2 separate regions of the Homo sapiens genome follow, and region 2 is linked to region 1. Evidence: fine-mapped expression QTL. Tissue or cell type: caudate. Region 1 holds a variant in brackets; the other region holds the start of a gene. All regions are shown on one strand. Distances are from middle to middle.

What was found. PIP is the estimated chance that this variant, and not a neighbour inherited with it, causes the effect.
Region 2: SFTPD starts here. The variant in region 1 is fine-mapped to the expression of SFTPD in caudate (GTEx, PIP above 0.99).

The regions. Positions count from the first base shown.
Region 1 is chr10:79,720,516-79,728,620 of GRCh38, forward strand. All of the region lies in intron 6 of NUTM2B-AS1 (NUTM2B antisense RNA 1), which reads right to left. Among named protein-coding and RNA genes, the nearest start is that of NUTM2B, 21 kb to the left of the region's middle. The variant C/T (reference allele first, on the strand shown) is at 4,204.
Region 2 is chr10:79,945,535-79,953,639 of GRCh38, forward strand. It overlaps SFTPD (surfactant protein D), which reads right to left and starts at 3,571. Exons shown (of 8, transcript NM_003019.5): 1 at 3,532-3,571; 2 at 927-1,128. The coding sequence starts at 1,125.

The DNA.
Region 1 (8,105 bases):
AAAATCCATTCCTCCTTTATGATAGAACTGTCCAACAAACCAGGAATAGAAAGGAACTGTCTCAACATGATAAAGACCATGTATTAAGAACTCACGACTAACATCATTCTCAATGGGGAAAAATTTCAAGCTTTTCCACTAAAATCAGAAGCCATGGATGCCTGTGTTTGCCACTTCTATTCAACACAGTATTGGCAGTTCTAGCCAGACCCATCAGGCAAGAAAAAGAAATAAAATAAATCCAAATTAGAAAGGAAGAAGTAAAACTATCTCTATTTGCAAGTGATATAAGTGTAGAAAGCCCTAAAGAATACCAAAAATAGCCTCTTAAAGCTAATAAACAAATTTAGCAAGGCTTCAGAATACAAAATCAACACACAAAAATCAGTCGTGTTTCTACACACTAGCAGTAAAAAATCTGAAAAGGAAATTAAGAATTTTTTATTTACAGTAGTACCCAAAAGAATAAAATATTTAGAAATCAATTTAACCAGGAAGGCAGAAGACTTGTACACTGAAAACTACAAAGCATTCTGGAAAGAAATTAAAGCAGACTTAAATAAATGGAAAGAGATCCTGTGTTCATAAGTTGGAAGACTTAATATTGTTAAAACGACAACGCTACTCAAAATGATATGTAGAGTCAATGTAATCACGCTAATAAGATCCCAACAGCGCTTTTGGCAGAAACGGAAAAACCTATTCTAAAATTCATATAAAATTTCAAGGAACCCAAAATAGCCAAAATAATCTGAAGAGGAACAAAGTTGTAGGACTCACATTTTCTGATATTAAAATGTACTACATAGCTATAATAATTGAAATAGCATGGACTTGGCACAGAGATAGACAATATAGACCAATGGAATAGAATCGAGAGGCCAGAACTAACACTCACATCTATGGGTAATTAATTTTCAGCAAGGGTTCCAGGATCACTCAATGGGGAAAAGGACAATCTCTTCAACAAATGGTGTTGGGGAAACTAGATATCCACAAGCAAAAGAATGAAGTTGGACCTATACTTTTACACAATGTACAAACATTAACTCAAAATGGATCAAAGACCAAAATTTAATGCTATAAAACACTTAAATATTAAATGCTATAAAACTCTTAGAGGAAAACATACTGAAAAATCTTCATGACCTTGGGTTTGACAATGGTTTCTTAAATATAACATCAAAAGTACAAGTGATGAAACAACTGATAAATTGGACTTCATCAAAATTGTGTATCAAGTGACACTATAAAGAGAGTGAAAAGATAACACAAAAAATTGGAGAAAATGTTTGCAAATCATACATCTGACAAAAAACTAATATACTCAGGCATTTCTTTATGGCAATGCAAGAATGGCCTAATACAATACCCAAAAGAATTGAATGCATAAAGAATCCTACAACTCAACAAATAAAAGATAAATAACTCAAATTTTTAATGGACAAAAGACTTAGACACTTCTCTAAAAAAAAGACATGTAAATGGTCAATAAGCAACTCAAAAGATGCTAAAACCACAATGAGATACCACTTTGTACCTACTAGAATGGCTATAATTAGAAGAAAAAATAACTAGTGTTGTTGAACATGTGGAGAAATTGGAAACCTAGTATACCTCTGGTGGGAATGTAAATGGTTTAACTGCTGAGGAAGATAGTTTGGCAATTCCTCAAAACGTAAAACAGAATTATCACCCAGTAATTCTACTCTTAAGTATATACCGGATATAGTTTGACTGTTTGTTCCTATGCAAATCTCATGTTGAAATGTAATTAATCTCCGGTGTTAGAGTTGGGGCCTGGTGGGAGGTGATTGGATCATGGGAGTGGTTTCTCATGAGTGGCTTCACCATCTCTAGCTGTCATCAAGATTGTGAGTTCTCACAAGATTTGATTGTTTAAAAGTGTGCAGCACCTCCCCACTTCCTCTCTTGCTCTGGCTTTTGCCATGTGACATGCCTGCACCCACTTTGCCTTCCATCATGATTGGAAGCTTCCTGAAGCCTCCCTGGAAGCAGATGCTGCTATGCTTCCTGTACAGACTGCAGAAATGTGAGCCAACTAAACCCTTTTTTCTTTGGCACTTACCCAGTCTCAGGTATTTCTTTATATCAATGCAAGAATGGCCTAATACAATACCCCAAAGAATTGAAAACAACAACTTAATCAGTGACTTGTACACTAATGTTCATAGCAGCATTATTCACAATAGACAAAAGGTAGAAACAACCAAAATGTCTATCAAAAGATAAACGGATAGGCCAGGCACGATGGCTCACGCCTGTAATCCCAGTACTTTGTGAGGCCAAGGTGGGCGGATCACCTGAGTTCAGGAGTTCGAGACTAGCTTGGCCAACATGGTAAAACCCTGTCTTTAAAAAACAAACAAACAAAAAGATAAATGGATAAACAAGATGCAGTATATACATACAATTATTATTCAGCCATAGAAAAGAAGAATGGAATACTGATACATGCTATAAGATGGATGAACCTTGAAAACATTATGCTAAGTGAAATAAGCTAGACACAAAAGGATAGTGTATGATACCATTATGTGAAATATTTACAATAGGCAAATTCATAGAGACAGGAAGTAGATTAGAGGTTACCAGAGGTTACCAGGGGCTGGAAGGAGAGGAAAATGGGAGTTTTTGCTGAATAAGCACAGTTTCTATTTGGGGTGATGAAAGGGCTTTGGTAATAGATGGTGGTAACGGTTGCACAACATTGTAAATATAATTAATACCACCAAATTGTACAGTTAAAAATGATTAAAATGGCAAATTGCATATGTCTTTCTCCGTTTGTGTTGCTATAAAGGAATACCCAAGGCTGGGTAATTTATAAAGAAAAGAGGTGTATTTAGCTTATGATTCTGCAGATTGTACAAGAAGCATGGCACTGGCATCCACATCTGGTGAGGGCCTCAGGCTGCTTCCGCTCATGTCAGAAAGGGAAGGCAAGCCAATGTGTGTGGAGATCACATGGTGAGAGAGGAAACAAGAAAGAGGTGGGTACTGCTAGGCTCTTTTAACAACTAGCTCTTGGCCAGGTGAGGTGGCTCATGCTTGTAATCTCAACACCTTGGGAGGCTGAGGTGGGAGAATCTCTTCAGCCCAAGAGTTCAAGACCAGCCTAAAAAAAAAAAAAAAATCCTATAAAACCTAGCTCTCACAGGAACTAAGAGACCAAAAACTCACTCACCTGCAACCCAGGGAGAACATTAATCTATTCATGAGGGATCTGCCCCATGACCCAAATACCTTCCATTAGGCCCCACCTCCAACACTGGGTATCCAATTTCAACATCAGATTTGGAGGGTCAAATACCTGGGCTACATACCCTTGTCTCTAGAAAAAATATATAAAATTTAGATGGGTGTGGTGACACATACCTCTAGTCTCAGCTACTTTGGAGGCTGAGGCAGGAGGATCATTTCAGCCCAGAATTTCGAGGCTACAGTGAGCTATAATCAGGCCACTGTACAACAGCCTGCAAGACAGAATGAGACCCTGTCTTTAAAAAAATAAAAATAAAAATAAATTAATTACTTTTAAAAAGACCTTGTATTGCAAGTTGGTAAACATAAGTACATTTGTTGGGACTATGAAATAATTCACCCACAGGATCAATGTTACAAATTGTTATTTGCATCTCAATTTAGTTCGTTCAACCCAGAATTCACATTTGCCATAAAACTGTAGTCAATGATTCAATTAAACTACTGATAACCAAAGGGGAAAGCAACATATTGAATCAGAAATAGTTTTATCAATTGGTGTCACCAAAGAAAAGCAGGTTTCACTAGTGTTGAGAAAATAGAAAGTTTTCTATTGATTATGGAGAAATTTCAGTTCAGTTTCTAGAAGGTTAAATGCCCCAATTTCTTTTTTTTTAATGACTGTGTTAAACTAAATAATGGCCTCCATTATTTCCATATGCAAATCCTCAGAACCTACCACTGTTACGTTATATGGCAAAAGGGAATTTGCAAATGTGATTAAGGATCTTGAAATTGGGAGATTATCCTGGGTTATCTGATGTCCCCAATGTAATCACAAGGATCTTTATAAAAAAAGGAAATGTGAGACAAAGGGAGAGAAGGTGATGTGATGAAGTAGAGGTCAGAGTGATGTGGGGGCTAGATCCAAGGAATGTGGGCAGCCTCTAGAAGCTGAGACAGACAGGGAAATGGATT[C/T]TCCTCCTAGAGCCTCCAGAAGGAAAGGAGCCTTGCCAACCCATTTGAAACTTCTGATCTCCAGATCTATACAATAATACATCTGTGTTGTTTTTTTTATTTTTATTTTGTTAGGTACAGGTCTTGCTCTGTTGCTCAGGCTAGAGTGCAGTGGCATGGTCTGGGCTCACTACAGCCTCAACCTCCCAGGCTCAAATGATCCTCCTGCCTCAACCTCCTGAGTAGGTGGAGCTACAGACATGTGCCACCACACCTGGCTAATTTTTTTATTTTTTGTAGAGATGGGGTCTCACTACATTGCCCACCCTGGTCTCCAACTCCTGGGCTCAAGCAATCCTCCTGCCTCAGCCTCCCAAAGTGCTGGGCTTAGAAGTGTGAGAGTCACAGTTCCTGGCCAATCTGTGTTATTTTAATGTTTAAGTTTGTCATAATCTGTTACAGCAGCAATAAAAAACTAACAAAATGACTAATTTTACTTCCAAATCCATTGTCTCCCTCCCTTAAAATAATTTTATCACAATAACTATTTTTATATTACAGTCACACACCATATAATGACCTTTTGGTCAATGACAAACTTCATATACAGTGGTAGTTCCTTAAGATTGCAGTGGAGCTGAAAAATTTTTATTGCCCAGATATGTCAGAGCTGATCATGGTACAACACATTACTTACATATTTGTGATGATGCTGGTGTAAACGAACCTACTGTGCTGCCAGTCCTATAAAAGTATAGTACATACAATATGTACAGTACATGGTACTTGATAATGATAACAGACGACTGCGTTATTGGTTTATGTACTTGCTATATTATACTTGTCTTATTATTTTAGAGTGTCTTTTTTATACTTAAAAAAAAGTTAACTGCAAAACAGTCCTTCAGGAGGTATTCCAGATAAGGCATAGTTACCATAGGAGATGGCAGCTCCATGCATGTTACTGCTCCTGAAGACCTTCCAATGGGAGAAGATAAGGAGGTGAAAGACAGTGATATTGAAGACCCTGGCCCTGTGTAGGCCTAGTCTCATGTGTAATGTGTGTTTATGTCTTTTTGTTTTTTGTTTTTTTTTGAGACTAGGCCTCACTATGTTGGCCCACGCTGGAGTGCAGTGGCTGTTCACAGGTGCAATCATATTGCACTGCAGCCTCGAACTCCTGGCCTTGGACAATCCTCCCACCTCAGCCTTCTGAGTAGCTGGGATTATAGGCTTGCACCATAGCACCTGGCTATGTCTTCATTTTTAAACAAAAAAGTTTGAAAGTAAAAAATAAATAAATAAAAATTTTTAAATAGAAGAAAGCTTATAGGCTGTGTGCAGTGGCTCATACCTGTAATCCCAGCAATTAGGGAGGCTGAGGCAGGCAGATCACTTGAGGCTAGGAGTTTGAGACCAGTCTGGCCCACATGGTGAAACTCTGTCTCTATTAAAAATGCAAAAATTAGCCAGGCATGGTGGCACACTCCTGTGTCCTAAGCTGCTCGAGAGGCTGAGGCATGAGAACTGCTTGAACTTGGGAGGCGGAGGTTGCAGTGAGCCAAAATCATGCCACTGCACTCCAGCCTGGACAACAGAGTGAGACTCTGTCTTAAAAAAAAAAAAAAAAAAGAAAGAAAATGAAAAAGAAAAAACCTCACTGTAGTCTCCACCTCCTGGGCTCAAGCAATCCTTGCACCTCAGCCTCCTAAGTAGCTGGGACCACAGGCACACACCACCACACCCAGCTAATTTTTGTATTTTTTTTTTTTTGGTACAGACAGGGTTTCATCATGTTGCCCAGGCTGGTCTTGAACTCCTGGGCTCAAGAGATCCTCCTGCCTCTGCCTCCCAAATTGCTGGGATTACAGGCATGAGCCACTGTGCCTGGCCTAAGTGTACCACTTTATATCTTCTATAGTTTACTTTTACTGTACCTTTTCTACATTTAGGTACACAAATATTGACCATTATGTTACAACTGCTTACAGTATTCAGTACAATAATAGGCTGCCAGGTTTGCAGCCTAGGAACAATAGACAATGCCATATATAGCCTAGATGTGTTGTAGACTATACCATCTATGTTTGTGTAAGTGCACTGTATGATGTTTGCACAACGATGGAATCACCTCATGATGAATTTTTCAGACTATATCCTTGTTAAGTAATGCATGACCTTAATCAGGAATGAGTCAGAGCAGTATTGTAATCTTGATGAAGATGTTGATGTAGATAATACTCCCATTTACAATGCACTTGCCAAATACAAGGCATTGCACTGAAAGCTTTACATACTTTATTTAAAAACATTTTACAACCTTTTAGGTAAGTACCATTAACCACTTTTACAGATCAGAAAACAGGGTCTATGAGGTGAAATAATTTGTCATACAGTGGTGATGTAAATATGCATATAATGAAAGAGAATAGGCAAGTCAGAAGTGATTTTTGTATTTCTTTTAATAGATTAAGGGTACTTACTATCAGCAAAAGAGTGAAAGTCTGACAGAAAAGAAAAAGATGGAAAGAAATGTGGGGATGTGCAATTCCTTATGTTGGTTGGTTCAGCAGAGCTTTGCCGTTGTTCAGATGGAGTTTAGGCAAGCAAAAGATGACCAGCCATTGCTGGGTATTTGAACATCAGATGTTCATAAGGCTTAGGTATTCTTAAAAGAAAAATTTATTCTCTTAAAAATTCTGAAAAAAAGTTCTCTGTATTAAAACTTCATAATGAACATTGCCACATTGTATATTAGGCACAGATATTATTTGTTGGAGTTTTTGGTAATTGTTATTTTTGTAACTGGAATATTTAATATATGTTTTATACATATTTATTTTATTTATTTATTTTTTGAGATGGAGTCTCACTCTGTCGCCCAGGCTGCAGTGAAGTGGCGCGATCTTGGCTCACTGCAACCTTTGCCTCCCAGGTTCAAGTGATTCTCCTGCCTCAGCCGCCCGAGTAGCTGGGACTACAGGCACGTGCCACCACGCCCAGCTAATTTTTTGTATTTTTAGTAGAGACGGGGTTTCACTGTGTTAGCCAGGATGGCTTCGATCTCCTGACCTCGTGATCCACCCACCTTGGCCTCCCAAAGTGTTGGGATTACAGGCGTGAGCCACCGCTATATATTTTGCAAACAATAGCAAATCTAGAGGAAATTCTTTGAAGTAAGAAGCAGTGGTACTTAAAACTGGCTACTTGTATTTATCATCTCTGTTTCAGTTTTTTAAGAAATTCAAAATTTTTACAGAGAGTTGATAAAAACATTTGATGATTTGGGGTGCAGAGGAAGGATGGCTGGTATTTGAAAAATAAATAAATAAAGGCCTTCCTTGATTCTTAATGTTTAGACTGAAGGCTTCAGTGGAGCTTCTTCCTCAGCCTGAATTCCAGTGATAATGTGTCTGTTCTTGACATGAGCAATAACTGGAGTACTTAGGATTAAACAAAATATTAGATGTGCCGGGCCAGAGGAGGTGAGGAAAGTCTAAAGTGATAAGGTGCTAGTCAGCTCAGAGTGGCTGTTTTAGATAGTGTAATACAGCAGACTAGAAACTTGTCGGAAAGGAAAGGTACCAGGCAGGAGATAAATGTACACCCACCTTAGCTAATGTAAGGAGCTGAAAACTCTATTTTGAATTTTTATCCTAAACATGGAAATAACATCCTTATGAGAAATTGAACACTAAATAGACATATTAAACCAATTTTGCTTATTGAGACATCTGTTCATTCATTTATTCAACAGCTATTTACTGAGTGGATACTTGGTAGTTTTTAGGCCTTAGAATTAACCCAAGACAAACTTGTGAGGTAGGAAGTTGCATTTCAGTCATCTCACTACTTTGCTCTTTCTTGAGACTTCAGCCTTCCCTTTCCTCCCTCAGGTTTTGGAGCTTAGAAATTAATAATAT
Region 2 (8,105 bases), 230 kb after region 1:
TCTTGCCAGTAAGACCTAGATCTTTCCCTACAAGCGGGGAGCAGTATTTCCAGGGACAATTCCCTTACTCATCAGTACCTCTGCTAAGCTCAAGATAATTCACCTATTAGGTACAGCAGAAAATGCAACTTTATCCCAAAGACTCAAGAAAAAATAAAGCCTTTGGCTCAATGATTCATCACTGGGTGGTAGATATCATTCCCATTACCAGATAAAAAAAACAGACTCAGTGACACTGAGGGGCTCTCCCAGTGTGGAGATGGAGCCCAGGCCAGTCTGATGCAGAGCCTTCGTCCTTTCCACCTCCAGAATGGTTGCTACTTAGCCTCTCTGCATCATCATTTTCTTACCTGTCGAAGGAGATTAATATGTCCCCTGTAAGACTCTTGGGAGGATTAAATGAACTACTCCAGTGAATGCCCAAGCACAAGGGTGGACAAAGAAATGTGAGTGCCTTTTCTCCCCGTGTAATGTATTAGAGCAAATCCTCTTGATTAGGCTTGAGAATGGAGCCATGGAGCCCCATTTTTTTCCCACCCTTCATGCAGTAGTGTTTAATTAAATATTTAAAATATTTAATGCCCTGCACAGGCATCATTTAATTGGAATGAACAACTGCTAACTGCTGGCACAGGGCTCTAGAAGGCCCCAGATATCAGTAATTTACCACTGTTTGCTTGCTCTTGGGATAGGAAGGATCCGGGGATCCTAGAGGAGGAGCTAGGGCAGTTGGGTGCTGGAGGAGGCACATGGGGGCTCAGCACAGCCACTTGTTTGCCAGCTGGTGGAGCAGTGTGGAACTCGCCTTCTTGGGAGGAAGAAACACGTCTCCAGACTTCCATAACAAAGTACCCAGAGTTGCTGGGCTAGTTACAGTTCCAATGACCATTCCTCCCCAGCAGGATAAGCCCAGGGCCCCACCCTACCTGGGTCCCCCTTCTCGCCCCGAGGGCCCTCTCTCCCATCCCGTCCATCGCGACCAGGCAGGCCACTCTCCACTGAGCTACACATGACCAGGGTGCAAGCACTGGGCATTGTTCTGTGGGAGTAGGTCTTCATTTCTGCTTCCAGGTAGCCCAGGGGCTGTGTGAGCAGGACCAGTGCAGAGAGGAGGAAGAGCAGCATGGCCTGGAGAGGTGAACAGAAAGAGAAAAGACATGCTTATGCTTCATGGACATGGTTTAGGGCTTGGCTCAGCTTCTAGAGGTGACAAGAAGCCCCCATTCCCTCCTTCTGTCCTCTGCTATGGGGCCTAGAGCAGCAGGAATCCAAAAGCAGTTTAAGGACAAGGAGGGCACAAGGTCTGGATGGAGAGCATGAGTTACCCAGCTGGAACTCTGACATAGGTTGACAGCAGCATCCCCCATTCCCAGGTGCTCATGTCTTCCCTTCTTGTGCCTTCCCTTGGGCACTAAGTTTGGCACAGTGGCTAGGATGTAGCATTCCTCACTGGGGCCATCTGTCACATCAAGAAGGGTTCATTGAGTGCCTCTGGGCAGGACACCCCCCGCCCACTCCCTAGACCATCTCCCTGTCTGTACCACTGAGGCAACTGGCTTAGCTCAGACAAGGCAAGCCTGTTTCTTCTCTCTTGCTGCCTTGCATGGACTAGCACTGGTGCTGATAGTGCTGGTCTGAAAATGCAGCCAGAGTCCTGAGTGCTTAGTAATGTCCTTCCTGAGCGCAGGCTGGGAGTGTGGTGCACATTTGCCTGGCAATTTGCCATTCCTCGAGCAGGTGCTGTCTCTAGAGAAAAGTCCCAGAGGGAACCCAGGTGAAAGTTTTCAGAGACACTAAACTAGCAGTAGGAGAAATCCTGAGACACCTAGAGTTCTTCTAAGACCTGAGAGGGTTTGGAAAAGAAGTATGTGGAGTCTGGGCACGGTCGCTCATGCCTGTAACCCCAGCACTTTGGGAGGCCGAGGCGGGCAGATCACTTGAAGTCAGGAGTTCGAGACCAGCCTGGCCAACATGGCAAAACCCCATCTCTACTAAAAGTATAAAAAATTAGCCAGATGTGGTGGTGCGTGCTGTAATCCCAGCTACTCGGGAGGCTGAGGCAGGAGAATCTCTTGAACCCGGGAGGTGGAGGGTGCAGTGAGCCGAGATCGTGCCACTGCACTCCAGCCTGGGCAAGAGAGTGAGACTCCATCTCAGAAAAAAAAAGAAGTCTTATATGGAAAGAGGACATGCCAGGTAGGCTCAGTCAGGCAGAAAGCTAGTGTTGTGGGTAAGCAAGAGCAACTACCCAACAGGGCACCCATTTACTATCTAAGATGGTCAGGAACTGAGACCAGGATAAGAGCAGGACCTGGGACATTAACTGTTTTGGGTATCTTTTCTCTCAATGAGAAACCGTAAAGTTATGAGAGTGAAAAGAGCTGATCAGATTCGCAGAGGCTAGGAACAAAGCCAGAGGGACTTGTGCAAAGAAAGGGGTCACCAGGCCAACTGGGGTGGTGGCAAGTGGGGGGCTTCCTGCCCAGAGGAGTGCCTTCTTCTTTGACTGCTGGTGATTCTGGGCTGTGGATGACCCCTATTTCTCACTAGCCTCTTTCAATTTTGAAATCACCACTTCCTTGGGTATCCTGGTAGTCTCTAGAAACACCTGGGTGAGCTCACTGCCAGCAGCGGCTACCTTGTTACACCTGTTCTGGCAGAGGCTCAATCATGAGCAGCAAGGGCCAGACCCAGGCCAGAGCAAGGGCATTGTTCTGTGCCCCGCAGCTCCCTCACCCCTCAGGCCCTGTGTCTGATTCTGGGGAAGAATGAAAGGCAATAGGCATTCTGTCTACAGGCTCAAGATGGCACAGAAGGCACCAGCAGCCACTGTGGCTTGAAGGACACTTGGAGAGGGCAGACCCGGGTTTTCAGGCCCAGGATTCAGATGAGGCATCTTAGCTGGGGCAGCAGATGGAGTGGGCAGAGTTGTGGTCCCCCTCAACCCCTGCAGTGCCCAGTTTATGCTAAGCTTTCAGAGTACAATTTCATTGAAAAGGCCATCTCCTCTGAACATGGATTGGAAAATCAGAGACCTACTCCAGTAAGTATATTTTTTAAAGTAAAGACCTGAAGCTATGAGAAAAACAGGCTTGCCCTGCTTTTCCACAGGCTGTTGGCACCAGGATGGGTTTAGAACCCCAGCCTGTGAGTGCCTGGGTTTGTCTCTCTTCCACTGTCCTTTCTGAAGAAATCAGTGCAGAAAAGAGCCTAGAGATAAATTAGCATTGCATTTTTCCACCTGAAGCTTCCACACTGTGGCATCCCAGGTCTAGATAGTGTCACACCCACTCTTCCACCCTGTGCACCCCCAGCTCAGAAAGCAAATCCTCCCCTGGGCTGAGGCCACTGAATAAGGGGCAGAAGAGCACCATAAGACCTCCTGTGCTCCCCACCTCCTGCGCCCATGCCTCCTAGACCAGAACAGCTACACAGACCCTCCACACCAATAGGTTGAATTGCCCAGGTCGGCAGAGGGATATTTATAGGATGTGGAGAAAATAAAAAGAAGGCAAGAACAGAGACACTTACAGGTTTCTTTTTGTTAGGCCCCAGGAGCTCCAAGCAAACTAGCCTTTGCTTGGCAGGCACTCACTATTTATGCCTGCCCTGTACCCTGAGCTGCCCAGCCCCAAAAACTCCCTTCAAGAAGTGGGGCAATTTTCTTCTTTATTGACTCACTCACTCTTATCCCCACCTGCGTTCTGGAAACCTGCCACTGATATTCACAATACTATGCACATCCATCACTATAGTTTGCAGAACACTATCAGGCCTTGAACTCATCTGCACCTTTCTCACTGCAGCTCTGTGAATTAAGTGGCATCATCAGTGTCTGTATTTTATAGATGTCTAGAAATCAGGAGTCCAGAGACCAGCAGGTTGCACAATGACCTACAGCGATTGCAAAAGGAACTCACAACTGCAGATCTTAAGAGCCAAGACCTGCTGTGTCCACTTCTCCTCTTCCTTTGTCTCAACAGCACTGCCCAGATATTGGGAAAGAGCTGAGAGCTGCTTGGAATACCTGGGCAGGGGTGGGGCAGGTAGAGTGGCTGCAGAGGCAGCAGCATGTGGGGGCAGCAGCTAGGGAGCTGCCACCTGGAAAGAGTTGCTCTTTTGCATGCTGCTCTAGGCCTCAGAGAGCCCCTGCCTTGCTTGTCTTTTGTGGGATGGATTTCCCTTAGCAGACCTCTGCCTTGCCTTGTTCAGGCTTGTTCTCCCTGCCATCTTAGCTGGTGTTTGTCTTGTGCACTGTTCTTGTAACTAGTTAGGACCCCTGAGCTGATGCTACTTTTATCCAATCTTTTAGTCTGTATGTATTTTTTTTTTTTTTGAGACAGTCTCACTCTGTCACCCAGGCTAGAGTGCCATAATGCATTTATAGCTCACTGCAGCCTCAAACTCCTGGGCTCAAGTGATTGTCCTGCCTCAGCCTCTTTACAGGTGAGCATGATCACACCTGGCTAATTTCTCTTTTTAATTTTTTACAGAGATGGGGTCTCACTCTGTTGCCCACGCTGGTCTCAAACTCCTGGTCTCAAGCAATTCTCCTGCCTCAGCCTACCGAAGTTCTGAGATTACAAGTGTAAGCCATCATACCCAGCACCAATCTGTATCTTTTAAGTGGAACATTTACTCCATTTATTATCAAGGTTAATATTGATATGTGATGTTTTGTTCCTGTCATGATAATTGTTACCCAGTTGCTTTTTAGTCTCAATTATGTAATTGCTTTATATAATCTGTGAGTTTTTCACTTTAATGTGCTTTTATGATGAGGAGTATTGTCCATTCATTTCCATGTTTAGAACTTTAAGCATTTCTTGTAGTGCTGGTCTTGTGGTGACAAATTCCCTTTGCATTTGTTGTATGGGAAAAACTTTATTTCTCCTTCATTTATGCAGCTTAGTTTAGCAGGATACAAAATTCTTGGCTGGCAGGATTTTTGTTTAAGTAGATTAAACATAAGACCCCAATCTCTTCTGGCTTGTAAGGTTTCTGCTAAGAAGTCCATTGTTAGTCTGTTGGGTTTTCCTGTATAGATTAGACATTTCTCTCTTGCTGCTTTTAGGATGTTTTCCTTCACATTGACTTTGGATAGTCTGATGACGATATGCCTTTATGAGGTTTCTCTTGTAAAGCATCTTCCAGGTGTTCTCTGAGCATCTCCTATCTGGATGTCTAATTCTCTAGCAAGACCAGGGAAGTTTTCCTGAATTATTCCCTCAAATAGGTTTTCCAAGCTTTTAATTTTTTTTCTTCTCCCTCAGGAATGTCTATATATTGTATATTTGGTAACTTTATGTAATTCTATATTTTTCAAAGTCTTTGTTCATTTTTAAAAATTTATTTTTTCTGTATTTCTGTCTGACTAGGTTAATTCAAATGACTGGCCTTCAGGCTCTGAAATTATTTCTTCTGCTTGGTCTAGTCTTTTGCTAAAAGTTTCAACTATATTTTATAGTTCCTTCAATAAATTTTTATTTCTAGAAGTTCTATTTGGTTTTTGTTTTTTAATCTCTATCTCTTTTGTAAATTTTTCATTAATATCCTGAATTATTTTTCTGATTTCCTTATGTTAGTTTTCAACTTTCTCTTGTATCTCATTGAGCTTCCTTACAACTCATATCTTAAATTCTTTATTTGTTATTTCAAAATTTTTATATTGGTTAGGATCCATTGCTAGGGAGCTGGTGTGATCCTTTGGGCATGTCAAAATACTGGTTTTTCGTACTTCCAGAGTGCTTATGCTGATTTCTTCTCATCTAGAGAACCCGTTACTTCTTACTTTTGAACTTACTCTCATTTGAATGGGATTTTTTCCCCCTTTGAAGGTGTGACTGTATGTTGTGTGTGATCATTTGGCTTCAATTTTGGGTGCCTTCCGTGGGTCACAGCTCTGTATGAGTTCCTTGGTCATAGATAGCTTTTGTGTGGTGGCTTTATTATGCTGTATAGATAGCTTTTGTGTGGTGGCTTTATTATGCTGATTGTAGTAGCAATGTATTGGGCATATGAGCAGGAATACTACCTTCTGAGGGGCTGGGAATGTGGAAGTCTCTGAAAGTTTATCTCATTCCCCAGCACTATACCCTCTGTCAGCCTGTTTTTTATTTGGTTGTGCAATTCAATCTGCATCCCAATAAAAGCTGGCTGTGGCATAAGCTGATGGGTACTTGGTCTTTGTTTTCTGGGAGGGGATCTCTGTTGTCACAGGCAGTTGGCTGGTCTGTGGATGGCCTGATTCCCTGAAGGGAACACAAAGCTTTGGAGGGGGACACAAAACTGAGGGGCACTAAACGACCAAGCTCACCCTGGGAAACCCCAATTATGAGCAGAAGCAACTGCCTTGATGGGAGTGGAAATGGGAGCTCATGGTGAAAGGCACTGATGTCTCCACCAGAGTGGGAAGGAGTATACCAGCTCCACATCCTGGGAAGGCAGGAAGGCAATCCACTTTCCTAAAACACCCTTGTCCCGGAGCTTGTGACCTTCAGTTCAGATAGACATTGTCCTTCATCTCCAGGCTGCAGTGTGATGGAGGTCTGCAGAAAACACCCGTCCTGTGGCTACCACCAAAATGGCCTTGGGATAGAACCTCTTCCCTCAGCAGCTCTGATATTCATCTGCATTCTGCTATGGGAATGCTGCTGCTCCATATGGGGAGGAGGATAAACTCTGCCCTTCGTGCAAGGCTTGGCCAGCAGGCACCCCATCAATGGGAGTGCAGCTGCCCCCAGGAGCCCTCAAAAGCCATCCCCAGGTGCACTTGTGCCAGCTCCCAGTAGGGACAGCCAACGGTCTATCTGGAGCATTGAGTGAGGGGGTAGGAGAAGACTCCCTTTCCATGTTTATTCCCAGGCACCAGTGTCACCTGCCTACTGGTGCAGAACCACACTCCTCCCCTTCAGACCCCAGAACCATGCCTGTGTCTCTGCTGGGAGGGGCACAGCCAGCCTCTTCTCACACGTGGGGAGCTCTTAGGCAGAGGAGAGCAAATGAACTGGTTTCTTTTATCCAAAGGAGTACGTTGGCACAGACACTCTCCCTTCTCCTAAGAGCTAGACTTCTAGGAATTCCATAGCTCCCCAGGGTCCCACCCGTCCCCTGTGGTTGCTGCAGTCTAAGTGGGTTCTGGGGAATGTTCATGGAGGATCTAGTGATGCAGAAACACAAGGGCTGGGATTCCTTGGGAAGAACAGACCCACAATGGGTGCATAACCAGTATGACACCTGCCACTTCAACTCAGGTTTTGGGGGAGAGCGAGTGTGCCTGCATGAGCTGGCCACCCAATGCTCTGCCCTAAAGAAGTTCCCAAATTGCCACTGACAGCAATGCCTGGGCTCACAGGTGCAGAGGGTTTCTCCAACAAGTTCAGCAGTCCATAGTCTGCCACAGGAGTGAGGGGAGCAACTTCCCCTCCTACCCTCTCCATGGGACTCTATGTTCCTTGGAAGTCAATCTCTGCAAAACTCTTGCTGTCTTCTTTTTCAGCACCACAGCTTTTTCCTGTGGGTTCCCCAATAGGTCATGTCACTCATTCCTCAGTATTCCACTCAGACCATGATTATTCAACTGCAATTTTGGTTCTTTGTTCTGAGGAGAACTGGTGTCCAATGTCTCTAGACAGCCATCTTGGGGAAAGGAAAACTCTACTTGTCTTTATAATTACTTTTACCAGTGAAACTTATACTTTTGTGTGCATTTGTGTTTCTGTTTAACCTCTTTTTATTTCAACCTCGAGAACTTCCTTTAGCACTTCTTGCAAGGTGGACCTAGTGGTGACAAACTCCCTCAGTATATGTTTGTCTGGGATAGTTTTTATCTCTCCTTCACTAATAAAAGACACATTGCTGGGTACAGAATTCCTGATTGACAGGTGGGTTTTTTTTTTTTTTCTTTCAGTACTTTGAATATATCATTTCATTCTCTCCTGGTCTGCAGGGTTTCCACTGAGAAATCTCGTGATAGTCTTTTGGAGGTTCTCTTTTATGTGACAAGTCAGTTTTCTCCTGCTGCTTTCAATTTTTTTTCTTTGTATTTGACTTTGGACAAACTAATTATAATGTGTTCAGTATAGACCTCTTTGGGTTTGTCCTAT